3 linked regions of the Homo sapiens genome follow. The protein of the gene in region 2 purifies or fractionates together with the protein of the main gene of each other region. This does not show direct contact. Each region holds a gene or a part of one and is shown on either strand. Other genes may lie near its edges.

Region 1 (3,351 bases), on a different chromosome or scaffold from region 2:
CTGTAATCCCAGCTACTGGGGAGGCTGAGGCAGGAGAATCACTTGAACCTAGGAGGGGGAGGTTGCAGTAAGCTGAGATCACACCACTGTACTCTGGCCTAGGCAACAGAATGAGACTGTCTCAAAGACATAAAAAAATAAAAAATAGACTAGGTTTCTTCCAAATATATTTATCACATTTACATGTGCAGTATTTTGCCTTTTTTGTATATTTTTAAGTTAAAAAAAAATTTTTTTTTGAGATGGAATCTCGCTCTGTTACCCAGGCTGGAGTGCAGTGGCGCGATCTCGGCTCAATGCAACCTCTGCCTCCCGGATTCAAGCAATTCTCCTGCCTCAGCCTCCCAAGTAGCTGGGATTACAGATATGTGCCACCATGCCTGGCTAATTTTTTTGTATTTTTAGTAAAGACGAGGTTTCACCATATTGGCCAGGCTGGTCTCGAACTCCTGACCTTGTGATCCACCCACCTCAACCTCCCAAAGTGCTGGGATTACAGGCGTGAGCTACTGCGCCCGGCCTAAAAATTTTTAAGTTAATGCTAATACAACTCATACTAAACAAAGTATTGGTACCAGTGATCAGACAAGGACTTGCAGGGGGCAGAGGGAATAGCAATTCAGGAAAGTAACATACAAGAATGAATCAGAAAAGACATCTTTCACTATAGAAAAACCTTTAATAACAACTTCAGATTTACATGACCCTTCTGGTGCTCAGAACACTATGGATTAACACACACACTGGAAAGATACAGACACAGGAATCTGCTGCATTACCCCAAATGGCAAAGTCTTGACTGGGGCTTCAGCTCCTTTCCCAATCCAAAATTGGCACCTTTTTCCATGGAAATTCAAACTGCATCTCTAAATGATGGGGTACATGAACTGTCTGTTTCAAAAGTATTTAAAAACAAACAGGAAGTACAGCTTCCATTTCATTAAGAAAACACCACCACAAGACATGGTGCAGTATCTACTAGCTTAAAGTTTATCACTCCATTAGGGCTTATTGACAGCAGAAATGTGAATGTAGTAATGTAGAAATAAGGAAGAGAGCACTTAAGAAAAAAACAGTACAGAAGTTTTAGAGTTTTTTAAACTTTAATAATATGCTTGACTAATATAGTCAAAAGTGATATGCACTCGTGAAATTAACCCATTTTCTGAAGTCCAAATTAGCTATTAAAGTCTTTTTTTACCAAAAACATATAAGGATTTAGTACACTATATAGATTACATAGCTTTCCTACCAACCTAAAGCTTATCAACTTTATTATTGTCTACTGATTTTCAAACTAGGCATTAAATTTAGGGTGAGAAAGAAGTGATACACTCTGTTTCAACTAGGGTGGTTGCATATTATCCTCTCTTTAAACCGGGCTTATATGTAATTTTTTTTTTGAGACAGGGTCTCGCTCTGTTGCCCATGGCTCTGAAATGGAGGGAACTGGGACATAAATGTTTTGAGGAATTAAGTGGTGTGATCACAGGTCACAGGTCACTGAAGCCTCCATCTCCCGGCTTGAAGCCATCTTCCCACCTCAGCCGACTGAGTAGCTGAGACTACAGGCGTGCACCACCACGCCTGGCTAATTTTTGTATTTTTTATAGTGACAAGGTTTTGCTATGTTGCCCAGGCTGGTCTCAAACTTCTGAGCTCAAGCAATCCTCCTGCCTTGGCCTCCCAAAGTACTGGGATTAAAGGCATGAGCCACTACACCCAGCGATATGTAACATTTTATTTCAACAGAGGGCCAACACTGTATTACCTGACAGAAACTTTAATAATGATACAAAAGTCAAATCCTTATATAAACTTCACCCAAAACATTCACTTTGGCCGGGAGCATGGCTCATGCCTATAATCCCAGCACTATGGGAGGCTGAGGCTGGCGGATCATGAGGTCAGGAGTTCGAGACCAGCCTGACCATCATGGTGAAACCCCATCTCTACTAAAAACACAAAAATTAGCTGGACATGGTGGCAGGCACCTGTAATGCCAGCTACTCGGGAGGCTGAGGCAGGAGAATCGCTTGAACCCAGGAGGCAGAGGTTGCAGTGAGCTGAGATCACAGCACTGCACTCCAGCCTGGTGACTGAGACTCCGTCTCAAAACAAACAAACAAACAAAACATTCACTTTATTCCTTGAAACATTTATGTCCAGTTCCCTCCATTTCAGAGCCATAAAGCCTAGAGATAAGATACATAAAATACCCAGAACAGACCTTTGTGTGTATACAGTGTATGTATACATACCATATGTAGCATTGTTATGTAGTATTACATAAATTACATGAAATTTTGCATAAGATTAGTAAGCAAGTCACTGAAACTTTATTAACAATAAGTATGGGCTTGGCATGGTGGCTCATGCCTGTAATCCCAAAGCTTTCTGCAGTGGGAGTTTTGCTTGAGGTGAAGAGTTTGAGACCAGCCTGGGCAACATAGGGAGACCCCCCCCATCTCTAAAAAAAAAAAAACAAATAAATTAGCTGGGTGTGGTGGTAGGCACTTGTAGTTCTAGGTACTCCAGAGCACTATTTGAGTCCAGGAGTTTGAGACTGCAGTGAGCTATGATCACGCTACTACCAGCCTGGGCAACAGAGTGAGACCCTGTCTCTTTAAAAACAAAAACAAAGTATGAGCTATCTTCCATTAAAAAACTGATTCTGGAGCAAGGAGCCAGGAGCCGTGGCTCACACCTGTAATCCCAGCACTTTGAGAGGCTGAGGCAAATAGATCCCTTGACTCCAGGAGTTTGAGACCAGCCTGAGCAACATGGTAAAACCCCATCTGTACAAGAAAAAAAAAACTGGCCTGGGCGACAGAACAAGACTCTGTCTTAAAAAAAAAAAAAAAAAAAAAAAAAGGCAGCCTCAGTTTTCTAATTAAATTCTAACATGAGGCAAGCAACTTTACCTGCAAAGTTTTAGTATGTGAATCTACCAACAAACAAAACAAAATTCCATTTTGCATCATTATCCAAGATTGAGAATAAAAGGATCTAACAAATTTATCCTCACACATAAAGGTACTAGAAGGTCAAGTTAGAGATCTAATGAGAAAGTGATATACATACTACATAATTGTTCTGTTGGTTAATATGCCCAAAATAATAGTTACTATCATTACATCTTACAGAAACAAAAACTTTAAGCTTATTACTTTTCAGAAGGAAAAAAGTATCCTATAACTGAAAATAATTTTCGCCACAATAGCAAAATAGAAAAAATAAATCTTCCTGAAACATTAGCAAGAGATTTTAGTTTTTATTTGTTTAAAGAGTATAGGTGGTGGTTTCAAGAAAAGACTTTTGCTAAAAGCAGCTAGCAATAAGATTATGGCT
Region 2 (3,659 bases):
ACACTCTCAAGGTAAGCTGAGCATTATTTTCTTATTAGCAGCACTCCCGCTTGGCCTGTCCCAGAGTCGGTATGTTAGCAGCAAAAAATAGCGGTGCTGAAAAGGGACTGGTGATTTTAAATCTTCCTTTGCTTTAAGATGGCACTGTATTTAATAATTCAAGACTAATGAAAATTTTCTAACATCTCTTCATTTAATTTACCATGAGTTAAGATGTAAATTTTGAAAACATAAGTTAATCTGCTCACACGTTTAAAAGCAAGCAAATAAAAATCTGATCATACCTTTAAAAGCAAAGAAACAAAAAAAAGGAACTAGGTCTTTATCTTCACAAAGGAGAAAATCTATTCAACTAGAAATTTTATCTTCAGATATAAAACATGCCTAATATGTTATTACACTTACTAATGCAGGTGTTTTAAATAGAAGGTTTCCTTCAGAATTTAATTTTAAGTACTCTTATTTGTGCATTGTTTTATTACATTATTTACATTTGTTAGATAAAAATGAGGGAGAAAATACTGAATATTTCCATTGCAACATTTTAGGAAAAAAAATTATTTAAATCTAAAGCTTATTGTCAGTGTTAGCACAAATGGAAATAAGTCTAATTCAAGGTTTTTCAACCTCGACAGTACTGACATTACAGGCCAGATCAGTCTTTGCTGTGAGGCTGACCCCCCAGCAAAAATTTTGTGCATTATAAAATGTTTAGTTAGCAATATCCCTGGCCACTCCCACGGATGCCAGTCTCATCATTTCCTTTAGTGCAAAACTGTCTCCAACATTGCCAAATGTCCTCTGGAGGAACATAAAATTACTCCTACTTAAGAACCATTGGTCTAACCAAATAAATCCTTACCATGAATCCTTTGATTGTCCTGTAGTAGGAATCCAATAAAAGAGAACCCAGGGAACAAACCTGGGAAGTCCTATCCCAACCATCGGAACAATGCACCAACACACTTGCATTTTCAACTGTTATTGCCTGAAAAGAAAGATCACATACATTCTAGCGTACTTTAAGGTAAACCAATAAATTCTACTTGAAAATCATACTAGCAGGTATTGTGTTACAAGGAAGTGCTATGCCTGCAATGATAATGTCACAGCATAATTTCCAAAATACACAACAAAATATGGTAACAACAAAAACACAAGCAAACAAACAAAAAAAAAACAAAGAAAAAATGCCACTTCAAAGTATTTAGGAGCATCTTTTTAAGTTTCTACATTAAGTGCTACATGATATTTTTAAGGCTGAAAATAAAGTGAAGCTCATTAAAGAGGTAAAAAATAATAAAAGTTATCTGATGAATAGATACCAGCCCCCAACAGAATACATCTACTCCTTCCCAATCATTATAGACCCCAAGACCAAATATGAAAGATAAAGTATTACTTTGGCCAAGAAGATTGCAGCATCCATAACAGCTTTGATATGGCGAAGCCATCCCGAGCTCTCCAAACCGGAGTAGAAATCATTGACAGAAAGCCCTTTAGTGCCATTGACTGAAAGAGGTATAAAAATATTTCAATTAGAATATGGCTAGAGTTTCTGCATTTCTTTTTTCAAGATCTCTCTAGATAAGTGAATGAAGAAAGAAGACAAAATAAACAGGCAAGACTCTATAAATGAAAAGATGCTATTAAAAGCTCAATAACTGATTCTTGGATATATTTTTCTATTATTCCCGTGCTTACAAAAATGCTCCAATCTCTTAAAAAACATTGTAGCACAAGCATCTAACTAAAAATAATCTTATATTTTAATTTTTTAAATTCTATACTATGACTGGAATATTTAAATGAACATTACTACAAATTAGTATTTATTGTACTGACTACTCAAGAATATCTATCTAATAACATTTTTTTTGCAAAACCATTAGAATTGTACTGTCTAATACAGCAGCCACTAACCAAATACGGCTACTAAACATTTGAAATATGGCTTGTCCAAACTCAGATGTGTAGTAAGTGTAAAATACATGCCTGATTTCTAAGAGTTGATGAAAAGAAAAATATCTCATTACTGATTTTTTTTATATTGACTACATGTTAAAATAATGTTTATAATATATTAAGTAAGGATATTATTAAAATTAATTTCACTTGTTTCTTTTTACTTTTTAAAATGTGACCACTGGAAAATTCTAAATTACATGTGACTAGCATTAGATTTCTTTTGGACAAGGGTGTCTAAAAAAGTAAGCAATAATATACCTTCCAATAATTTCTGAAGGCTGGACCTCATGACATGAATATTTTCAATTCCAACAAACTGAAATCTAATATTGGAATAGTTGTCTTCATTTTCATAACCTTTTCCAGCTGCTCTGTTGGCCATTGCATTCAGCTAAAATTAAAAGTTTTAGAAATTTAGAGACAAATTACTTTTTTAATTTACCAAAATGTCATGAAAATATTAAATAAGCAGTATTTTAGCTAGGAGGCAGTTTAAAGGAACTCATCAAAACTGAATAAGCTACCATTCATCTTTTAGTAAGTAAAAATGCCACATTATTAAATAGTAATGAAGGAGATAATAAAGTAATACGATTGCTATATAATGGAAAGGTCAAAGTTCCCATAAGTTCATGAAACCAATTCATTTATATTTTAGGCAGTTTCCATATGTTTGTAATATTTTAAAATTAAAAAGAAAGAAATGTCTCCTATCTAATTTCTAAATGATTCAGTTGAGCAGAGCTGGCTGGGGGACTTTCCTTTTACAGAATGAACCTATGAGTTTACTTCAGAACAAGCCTAGGGCATTGATCATTCTGAGAGCCATAGGGACCTGAAAATCAGATCTGAAATATGCTTCAGATTACTTGAGGGAGATTATATGAGAGATTATTGGAGGCCCATACATCATATAATATGGCATATAATCGGCTATCCTGATACATCTCTGAGAATTGGGCCAAAAATAAACTGGTCTCCAGGAAAAAACAGATTGCTCATATGCCCATGGTCTTTAGCTATTAGATCAAAATGTTGTCAGTGGTCCCTTAGGATTTGTCATGCTTAATTCTTCCAGGCTAGGATTTCATATAGTATGTTAACACAATTTATTAAAAATTCTTATGAACGTGGATAAAACGAAGCCTAAATTAGAAGAAAAGGAGCTCTTCATTTTGTGGATTGGACCTCAGTTTGGTAACAAGTACAGTTAAATTGTATCCTACTGACTCACTAGTTATTCGGTACCTAAAGTAAAATCTACAGTTAGATGTTAAAAAATGCTTCCACATTATTACTACTTGAGTTACATTTAACTAGTAAAACAATCAAAGAATGATATATTTTCTGTGAAGAAGATAATTATACAAATAAGAACTATGAGGTCCTGAAAAACAAATCACTGTATCAGACCTCATCTTCAAAAAGTCTCATATTACAATCGCCTTTTATATCTAATATTATCAAAAAAGTGTTCCAGAATTTTTCTTATGAGATATCACCAACACTCTCAACTCCTAATAAAGTCTTTTATTTTTAATAAAAGATTATCAAGTTATCAATTTCTATTTTTAAATAATTATTAATTTTTTTTTTGTCACCCAGTCTGGAGTGCAATGGCACAATCTCGGCTCACTGCAACCTCTGCCTCCTGGGTTCAAGCAATTCTCCTGCCTCAGCCTCCCAAGTAG
Region 3 (3,659 bases), on a different chromosome or scaffold from region 2:
CCCGAGTAGCTGGATTACAGGTGCAGGCCACCATGCCTGGCTAAGTTTTGTATTTTTAGTAGAGACAAAGTTTCACCATGTTGGCCAGACTGGTCTTGAACTCCTGACCTCAGGTGATCCATCTGCCTCAGCCTCCCACAGTGCTGGGATTACAGGCGTGAGCCACCACATCAGGACTAAAAAAAGTTTAATGTTTATTTAGAAAACGTAAGAAAGCCATATGCTTTATCTTTTTTTTTTTTTTTGAGCCAGGATCTGACTCTGTCATCCAGGCTGGAGTGCAGTGCAGTGGTGTGATCATAGCTTACCGCAGCCTCGACCTTCTGGGCTCAAATGATGTTCCCACCTCAGCTTCCTGAGTAGCTGGGACTACTGGCATGCACCACCATGCCCAGCTAAATTTTTTTTAAGAGATGGGGGTCTCGCTATGTTGCCCAGGCTGGTCTTGAATTCCTGGAGTCAAGTGATCCTCCAACCTCGGCCTCCCAAAGTGCTGGGGTAATAGGCCTGAGCCGCTGTGCCCAGCCTGTTTTATCTTTTATTTAAAATATCATATTAAAATTTACAGATATCTACACGTAACTATATAAACACAAAAGAATATACACAAAACTGTTAAAAAGAGGCAACCTCTGGAGTAATGGATTATTCACAGAGATAGACGGGGAGTGAGAAAAAAGCATGCGGTGCAGAGGGAAAGACTTCAACTTTATTTTCTACAGATCTTTAGTAATTATTTTAAAAATAATAAGCATATGGATCTCTTGTCAAAGCAGAATCCTAGAATTCAGTCAATTTCTAATTGAATGCTAAACAGCTCCTGTTAAAAGCCTTGTTCAAAACAATTCATATTTAAAAGCATAGGCTATGGGGGAAATTAATCATTCATAACTCTAAAATGAACCTTTTTTCTTTTCTTTTTTTTTTTTTTTTGAGATGGAGTCTCCCTCTGTTGCCCAGGCTGGAGTGCAGTGATGCAATTTCAGCTCACCGCAACCTCCGCCTCCTGGGTTCGAGTGATTCTTGTGCTTCAGCCTCCTGAGTAACTGGGATTACAGGTGTGTGCTACTGCACCCAGCTAATTTTGTATTTTTAGTAGAGACAGGGTTTCACCATGTTGGCCAGGCTGGTCTCAAACTCCTGGCCTCAAATGATCTTCCCGTCTCAGCCTCCAAAAGTGCTGGAATTACAGGTGTGAGCCACCATGCCTGGCCTAAAATGAACCTTTAACATTACTTTGTCCCTGGGGGGTAAAAACCTCATAGACTCACTGGATTTTTCCTTTTACAAAAGGGCTGATGCCAAGAAATGGCCATCTGACTATGGAATTCCAAAGAGTGAGATAGCCTGTGGTGGCATGGACTTCACAGCTCAACTTTTTCATCAACTGCACCAACTATATCAGCCTGTTTCTGATACAGTTCATCTAACTGTTACATGCTATTTACCTTTAAACATTATTTTAAGCATCCTATAGAGTGTGTGTGTGTGTGTGTGTGCATATATTTTATTGAAAGTCACTCTCAAGAAGATATAGTGGTAACTATTATTACTCATAACAATGACCTGAAGCAGTTGTTTTAGCCAATCGTGGTTTTTACCAGAAATATAAGGACATCAAAATGAATTTTCCCTCTATCACTCATTTACTTATCCAACATATATTTACTGAGTGCTTATTCCATATACTTCCATAAACACTGGATAAACTCAAGTTATATAACATCCTCCCTCCAACCCAATTTCTTCCTTTAATTTGATTTTTGGGGAAGATAAAGGTGATGGAAGAAGAAAACAAAACAAAAAGGCAGGTAAAGGTTCTCTGTAGTCAAAGTACTCCATTCTGATAATAGCTCAGAAATTGTGTATGGTGAGGCAAAAAAAATCCTTTTTCTTCCAAATATGCTTCTCTTAAAAACTTACAAAACAACACATTTGACTCAAGTTAAAAAAATTAATATGTCAAATTATTTAAAAATTGTTTCCACATGTTTATAAAAGCCCTTAAAACAGTAACCACTAATTTATCTCAAGTACATAATGTTCATTGATATTCTTTCACATAATATAAAAAATTAGAAAAATACAAATAACAGCAACCTGTAAAACTCTGAGCACTCTGTCCTGGCAGGCCAATACAGGTGTGATACGAGATAATCTTTCCACTGGAAGGCAGATCACATCATTGATTTTATCCCCAGAAAGGTAATAATGTTGGTCTTTGCAGTCACAATAATGGTTATAGATGTAACTTGCACTGAGAAAGAGGTCTGAGCCAGATATGTGCCTGAGAACATTAAAATAGTAATTTTTAAAAATAAGCACAGGTACTGAATTTTTTTCAGAGATAAAAACAGAAAAATGTATACAGTTTACTAACATTTTATTATAGACTTAGAGAACACAGTTTTTAAAACTTTCTCCTAGTTAATTCCTAGTATTTTTGGTATAACACTGTTTTTGATTTTGAAAGCTGAAAATGAGGATGTTAAGGCCTCGGGCTTCTCAATAAAAACTGAGCTCAGAAAAATGGAAAACAAAGACAAGATAATGATAATTTAACTGTCTATATCCAAAGACAATTAATACATCAAAAAATGACTTCTTTGTGTACTATGTGCCAAGCACTATCTTAAGTGATTTTTATGTATTAGATCAATTAATCATCATAACTCTATAAAATAAGGACCATTATTATTCCTTTTACAGGTGAATAATAAAATGTAAAATAACTTGCCTAATGGCACCTAAGTATTAAGTAGTAGATTAGACTGCAACTCAGTTTTTTGCTCGAGTTAGCTTTCTTACTACCACACTAAATTGCCTGAAAAAGTCTATTTTAAGTGATTCTACCTCAAACTAAATGATAAACAGCAGAAAAAAAAAGATTTCATTAGAACTTTATCTTGAAAAAAGAAATGAAAACAAGTTTATTTCATATTACATTTAACAAAATTTAGTCAATAGTCATAACTATATTCTAATTCTTAGACTGAACTGAGTTTTCACTTGGGTGAGCTAAAATGTCTTGACAAAAATTATATTTAAGTGTGATATATTTTTCACTTCTAGGTTGTTATTACCATATTTATCATAAAGAGGGTAATTTTATTTGAATGTTTCATGTATTCCTCTACCTCCAAGTTCTATTAAAAAATTTTATATTAAAATTATTCTCTGAAGAGCTTATCCTATAATAATCCTCCCTGATTTTCTATTCTTCAGTTATTAAGTGGCCTCACTTTGTGGCTCTGCATATGATTGAATAGTCCTCTTACTATTTTTATCAATTTCATGAAATTCTCTATGTTTTTCAAAATTTTAAATTCCATTTTGAAACCAATCTGTATTATATTTGCATTATATTGGCCAAAGTACTATTTAGCAATCTCTATTGTTGACATGAGTGGGGATACATGGCAACATTAAGCAGGAAAGGATATGTGGTGACTAATGTTAAGTGGTCAGTTTCCTTACTGAATATCTTCAAGTTATAACTTTTGTTTTCCTATAAAACCTTACAAATGTGGGGATTCAGACAATCAATTTTCAAAAATTGAGTAAAGAACTTTTCTATCCCATCTTTGCCACTCTAGTAAAAACATTTAAGAAACCACTTGAAGAGACTGTTACTGAGAAACTCTCTATCTTTCTCACAC

The links.
Region 1: the proteins of MTMR6 (region 2) and SOAT1 purify together in Homo sapiens (affinity purification with mass spectrometry, with the first as the bait; one large-scale study listed by BioGRID). This does not show direct contact.
Region 3: the proteins of MTMR6 (region 2) and BBS7 purify together in Homo sapiens (affinity purification with mass spectrometry, with the first as the bait; one large-scale study listed by BioGRID). This does not show direct contact.

Annotation. Positions count from the first base shown.
Region 1 is NC_000001.11:179,355,989-179,359,339, reverse strand, and holds the end of SOAT1 (sterol O-acyltransferase 1), read right to left. Parts: 3' UTR 660-3,351; downstream 1-659.
Region 2 is NC_000013.11:25,256,334-25,259,992, forward strand, and holds part of MTMR6 (phosphatidylinositol-3,5-bisphosphate 3-phosphatase MTMR6), read right to left. Parts: intron 2,360-3,659; coding exon 2,227-2,359; intron 1,513-2,226; coding exon 1,403-1,512; intron 989-1,402; coding exon 863-988; intron 1-862. UniProt on the Homo sapiens protein: Lipid phosphatase that specifically dephosphorylates the D-3 position of phosphatidylinositol 3-phosphate and phosphatidylinositol 3,5-bisphosphate, generating phosphatidylinositol and phosphatidylinositol 5-phosphate.
Region 3 is NC_000004.12:121,856,892-121,860,550, forward strand, and holds part of BBS7 (BBSome complex member BBS7), read right to left. Parts: intron 2,288-3,659; coding exon 2,101-2,287; intron 1-2,100.